Regions from separate parts of the Homo sapiens genome. Here region 2 is linked to region 1. Evidence: fine-mapped expression QTL. A gene starts in region 1. The other region holds a variant in brackets. All regions are shown on one strand. Distances are from middle to middle. Region 1 holds the start of C5orf22 (chromosome 5 open reading frame 22). Region 2 has its middle 35 kb from the start of C5orf22.

Region 1 (2,914 bases):
TCTATCAATCTTAAATGCCACCTCCTCTATGAAGCCCTTCCTGATTCCCTTAGGTAATCCCATTCCCTCTAGACTTAGTCTATACTTAATCCTTTTACAGCACTTACCAGAGACTGCCTCATATCATAGTGAAGTATGCACACGTCTAACTCTTCCACTAGATTATCAGCTCCTTGATGATATGGGTTGATTCACAGTCATTTCTGTATCCTTCACATCCCCGGGAAAAGCAACCTACACACAGTAGGTGGTCAATAAATGTTTACTCTCTCACCAATAGTATGTTTCCATGTTGCTACTGTACATTTCCCTTCCATGTACCTCCGCAACAGAAAGCAGGCCTTTTCACTGAGTCATGCAATATTTAATGAGCCCATAAATGGGAAGCACTGTCCCAGGCCCTGTAGACTCAGAGATAATAAGACACACAGCCTGTAGGATTCAAGGAACTCAGAACCCACGTACAAGTAAGTGTTTTAAAAATACAAAATAATGCAATAAACACACAAAAAAGAGGTATGTGCAGGGCTTAGGGGAACACAAAGGTGTGTGCCGCACCTAGAGGTGGGCAAAAGTCAGGGTCACGAACACTCTTGTACAGTGTGTAACAAGAGCTGAACATTCACTGCCAGATCCTCATGGATGTTTCAGTAGTTAGAAAATCTAAAAATACTAATCATGAAATTGACCTATTGAAGGCATAGTCCGGCTGTGTTGTGGATGCAGACTTTAATTCAAAAGTCAAGGAATTCACTGCACCTGGAAAAGTAACTCTCTTTTCTCCGTCTGTCTCTTCTCGGTTGCGGTTTGGAAACAGAGACACTGAAGGAGCTGTCTTGAATAGTTAACACGGCCAGAACGTCAGTGCATGTAAAAAGAATTTTAAAGTGTGACTACATTTTTATTGAGAACTCCCTCTTTCCCCAGGTGGATCTGCAGGGCAGTCACCTTCATCCTGATCCATAACTGCACATTTACTGTTTGCATCTCCCGCCAGACGGTACGCCCCACGAGGCAGGCGCTGAGCTCAGGATCTCACTCCCCTCCGAGAGCCGGGCGGCCCCAGGCCTGGACCATAGTGTGTGCTCCACAAATGAATGAAAGGTCTCCTTTTTCACTTCCACTTATTTGCGGGATCCAGGCCTAGCGTCGCTCTTTTGCCCTTAGCTGCAGATCTGAAGTGGGGCTGCCCGACCCCAATTCCCGGACGCTTTTCACCCCAGCCCCGGAGACTCCAGCCCCGTTTAAATCCTGACACTCGGAAACTCTCTTCTAACACTTGCAAGGTACCCCTTTTACCTATAAAAGGCTCTCGGGCCGCGAGATCGCCGTCAGAGCAAAGCCAGGCTACTACCGCAGGTACCAAGACAGTGGCACCGCCCGCGCCTCCGGAACAGGAAACCGAGGGAATTAAAAAGCAAACCTGAGAAAGCTGGGCCAAGGGAGGGAAAACTCTTCAGCCCACCGCAGGGCCTTGTGCGCGGTGATTGGCGCGTCAACGAAAGCGATGGACGTCTAGACCAATCGTCAGCAAAAGACCCTTTGGAGCCCGCGCCCCCTCCCCCTACGTCCTCCAATCCGAAAACGCAACCGGGTGAGGGAGCGCTTCCGCCCGGAGAGAGCTGGCCGGGATGAGGCGCCGGCTTTCCCGGGTCTTCTCCAGCTGCCACCGCTTTACTGCAAAACTGACGGGCGCAAAAACATGAGTGACTCCGCGGGAGGGCGCGCTGGTCTCCGGCGTTACCCCAAGCTCCCAGTGTGGGTGGTGGAGGATCATCAGGAGGTGAGCGGACGGCAACAGGGCTCTGGGGCAGAATCAGCGGAAGCCCTGACGCTCAGAGGGCCAAGCAGAGGGCGCAACCTTAGCATCGGAGGCCAGAGAGTTAACCAGAGTTAAACTGCCCTATTCCGTTGCTGTGGAGAGGACCCCAAAACAGCTAACTAGGAAGAATGAGAACTGACATTTATGGGCGCTTCCTACGAGTCGGGGCAACTTATTTACCTCGGTTTGCCCCCAAATCCCAGAACCAAACAAAAGGTGGCATCGGGATTCGAAACCGGACAGTCTGGCTGCAGAGCCCTGTGTTCTTAACCTGCAGTTAACTCTGGCTTCCAAGTATCTCCTGGAATCGCCACCACAGCCCTGCTGTTTAGATGGGAGGCTTTATGCTTGGAACGTGGGCTCTGATCTGAAATGGGGACAGTAATCGTAGGACTCACAGGGCTCTTAGGAGTATTATTGTGTGCATACTGTGTTTAAAAATCTTTTTTTTTTCTTTTTTGAGACGGAGTCTCTCTCTGTTACCCAGACTGGAGTGCAGTGGCGCGATCTCGGCTCACTGCAACCTCCGCCTCCTGGGTTCGAGCGATTCTTCTGTCTCAGCCTCCTGAGTAGCTGGGATCACAGGCACGCATCACCGTACCCAGCTAATTTTTGTATTTTTAGTAGAGACGGGGCTTCGCCACGTTAGCCAGGATGGTCTGAAAGTCTGACCTCACGTGATCGGCCCCCGCCGGCCTCCCAAAGTGCTGGGATTGCAGGCGTGAGCTACTGCGCACGGCCCATATTGCGTAAAAAAAAAAAAAAATTTAACACGGTGCCCTGCATAGATAAACACTAAAAGGGGTTTCCATGTTTATGGCCGTGCTGATTTACAGTAGCCAAATTGGTGTCTTAATCTAGACTTTTCCAAGTCAACAAAGGAGGCCCATGGATCTAATAAATATGTTTTAAAGTAGCATCAGTAGGCTTGGGATGGGAGGCAGTTCTCTGGACGTTAAAAAAGAAGAGGGATTTACTGTTGGTGACAGCTAATAGGAGAGGAAGATAGGTTTCTCAGGACCTGGATATAGTGTCTATGACCTTGAGAGAATGAGAAAGCCTAGGTTAGACGGTGCTTTCAAATTAGGTATT
Region 2 (2,914 bases), 35 kb after region 1:
ATGAGCTGTACATTGGCCCCTTTTAGCCACAGCTGGAGCTAAAGCAGCTGGGATGCAGGGCACCATGTCCTGAGGCTACACAGAGCAGGGGGGCCCTGGCCCAGGCCTACAACACAATTTTTCCCTCCTAGGCCGCTGGGCCTGTGATGAGAGGGCTGCCACAAAGATCTCTGACCTGCCCTGGAGACATTTCCTGCATTGTCTTTGCTATTAACATTCAGCTCCTCATTACTTATGCAAATTTCTGCAGCCTGCTTGAATTTCTCCCCAGAAAATGTGTTTTTCTTCTCTATCGCATCTTCAGGCTGCAAACTTTCCAAACTTTTATGCTCTGTTTCCTCTTGAATGTTTTGCTGCTTAGAAATTTCTTCTATCAGATACCCTAAATTATCTCTCTCAAGTTCAAAGTTCCACAGATCTCTAGGGTAGGGGCAAAATGCCACCAGTCTCTTTGCCAAAGCATAGCAAGAGTCACCTTTGCTGCAGTTCCCAATAAGTTCATCATCTCTATCTGAGACCACCTCAGCCTGGACTTCATTGTCCACATCACTATCAACATTTTGGTCAAAACCATTCAACAAGTCTAGGAAGTTCCAAACTTACCCACATTTTCCTGTCTTCTGAGCCCTCCAAACTGTTCCAACCTCTGCCTGTTACCCAGTTCCAAATTCACTTCCCCATTTTTGAGTATCTTTATAGCAGCACCCTACTCTCTTCTGTATTAGTCCATTCTCACACTGCTATGAAGAAATACTTGAGACTGCGTAATTTATAAAGAAAAGAAGTTTAATTGGCTCACAGTTCCGCATGGCTGGGAAGGCCTCAGGAAACTTACAACCATGGTGGAAGGCGATAGAGGAGAAGGCACCTTCTTCACAGGGCAGCAGGATGGAGAAGTGCTGAGCAAAAGGGGAAAAGCCCCTTATAAAACCATCAGATTTCATGAGAACTCACTCACTATCATGAGAACAGCATGAGGGTAATCACCTCCATGTTTCAATACCTCCCACTGGGTCCCTCCCATGATATGTGGGGATTATGGGAACTACAATTCAAGATGAGATTTGGGTGGAGACACAGGCAAACCATATCATTGGCCTTGCATTAAACTTTCTTTACTGCAGTACCACAGTCTCAGTGAATTGCATTTGTCTGTGCAGCAGGCAGGAAGAACCCATCAGGCAATTGCAAGACTTTTATACAAGGATTTTCATTGTGACAGTAAAAGACTGGGGAGGAAGGTCTTTCAACAGGGACTGGTTAAGTTATCAGACATCCATATGGTGGTACCCTTACCACCACAGAAGGGGGCTCCTCTCTGTGTACTGATATTGAAAATTCCACCAGGAGGAAGAGAAAATATAAAATGATTAATAGTATATACAGGATGCCACTATGTATTTTCTTTTTCTTTTTTTTTCTTTTTTGTGTGTTCTAGGAGGCAAGGATGTATTTTATTTTTCTTATAACTTTTCTGTCATTCCTAGGGATTTGAGATAAGAGGGGGAGGCTCCAGGGTATGATTAATCTACCACATGATAGATTATGAAACTAATATGATGAAAACTTACAAATAACAACAAAGTTCAACAAGGTGGCTTAGATAGCAGATGGACATTCATAAATTAGTAGTTTTGTGATACACCAGTGATATGGTTTGGCTGTGTCCCCACCCAA[A/G]TCGCATCTCGAATTGTAGTTCCCATAATCCCCGTGTGTCATAGGAGGGACCCAGGTAGTTGTCATAGGAGGTAATTGAATCATGGGGGTGGTTATCCTCATGCTGTTCTTATGATAGTGAGTTCTCATGAGATCTGATGGTAAGGGGCTTAAGAGTGCCCTTTGCTCAGCACTCACTCTGTCCTGTCATCCTGTAAAGAAGGTGCCTGCTTCTCCTTTGCTTTCTGCCATGATTGTAAGTTTCCCAAGGCCTCCCCAACAATGTGAGACCGTGAGTCAATTAAACCTCTTTCTTTTATAAAATACCCAGTCTCAGGTATTTCTCCATGGCAGTGTGAAAACAGACTAATACAAATAGCAATAGATGGAAAATGTAATGGAAAAGAATTCACAACAGAACCTAAATAATAAATATAGAAGATCTTTACAAGGAAAAATGTAAACTTTATGAGATGTAGAAGAAATCCAAAATTAAGAACATTATTGGTTATAGACGATAAATTTCAGTATTTTAACATGCCAAGCTGGGTGCAGGGGCTCATGCCTATAATCCCAGCACTTTGGGAGGCCAAGGCAGAAGGATCACTTGCGCCCAGGAGTTTGAGACCAGCTTGGGTAACATGGTGAGACCCTTTCTCTACAAAAAATACAAAAATTAGGCCGGGTGTGGTGGCTCACGCCTGTGATCCCAGCATTTTGGGAGGCCGAGGCAGGTGGATCACTTTGAGGTCAGGAATTCAAGACCAGCCTGGCCAACATGGTGAAACCCCATCTCTAATAAAAATACAAAATTAGCTCGGCATGGTGGCACACACCTGTAATCCCAGCTACTCAGGAGGCTGAGGCAAGAGAATCATTTGAAACTGGGTGGCAGAGGTTGCAGTGAGCCAAGATCATGCCATTGCACTCCAGCCTGGGCAACAAGAGTGAAACTCCATCTCAAAAAAAAAAAAAAAATTAGCTGGGTGTGGTGGTGCATGCTTGTAGTCCCAGCTACTGGAGAGCTTGAGGTGGGAGGATCACTTGAACCTGGGTGGTGGAAGTTGCAGTGAGCAGAGATCATGCCACTGTACTCCAGCCTAAGCAAAAGAGAGAGACTGTCCAAAAAAAAAAAAAAAAAAAGCCAGCTCTCTGCAAGTTGATATGTAAAATGTAATCCCCAAAATAACCCAACAGTCTTTAGCATACAATTTGGCTAGCTAATTCAAGAATTCATAAGTAAGGCTAGAAGTGTATG

What was found. PIP is the estimated chance that this variant, and not a neighbour inherited with it, causes the effect.
Region 2: its variant is the best candidate, but not a certain one, in a credible set for the expression of C5orf22 in whole blood (TOPMed, PIP 0.71).

What each region holds. Positions count from the first base shown.
Region 1 is chr5:31,530,691-31,533,604 of GRCh38, forward strand. C5orf22 (chromosome 5 open reading frame 22) reads left to right here and starts at 1,611. Exons shown (of 9, transcript NM_018356.3): 1 at 1,611-1,783. The coding sequence starts at 1,703. DROSHA (drosha ribonuclease III) reads right to left here and starts at 1,403. Exons shown (of 36, transcript NM_001382508.1): 1 at 1,300-1,403; 2 at 760-835; 3 at 108-234. RefSeq lists enhancers at 1,483-1,652, 1,683-1,732, 1,783-1,832.
Region 2 is chr5:31,565,780-31,568,693 of GRCh38, forward strand. No RefSeq gene overlaps it. Among named protein-coding and RNA genes, the nearest start is that of C5orf22, 35 kb to the left of the region's middle. The variant A/G (reference allele first, on the strand shown) is at 1,678.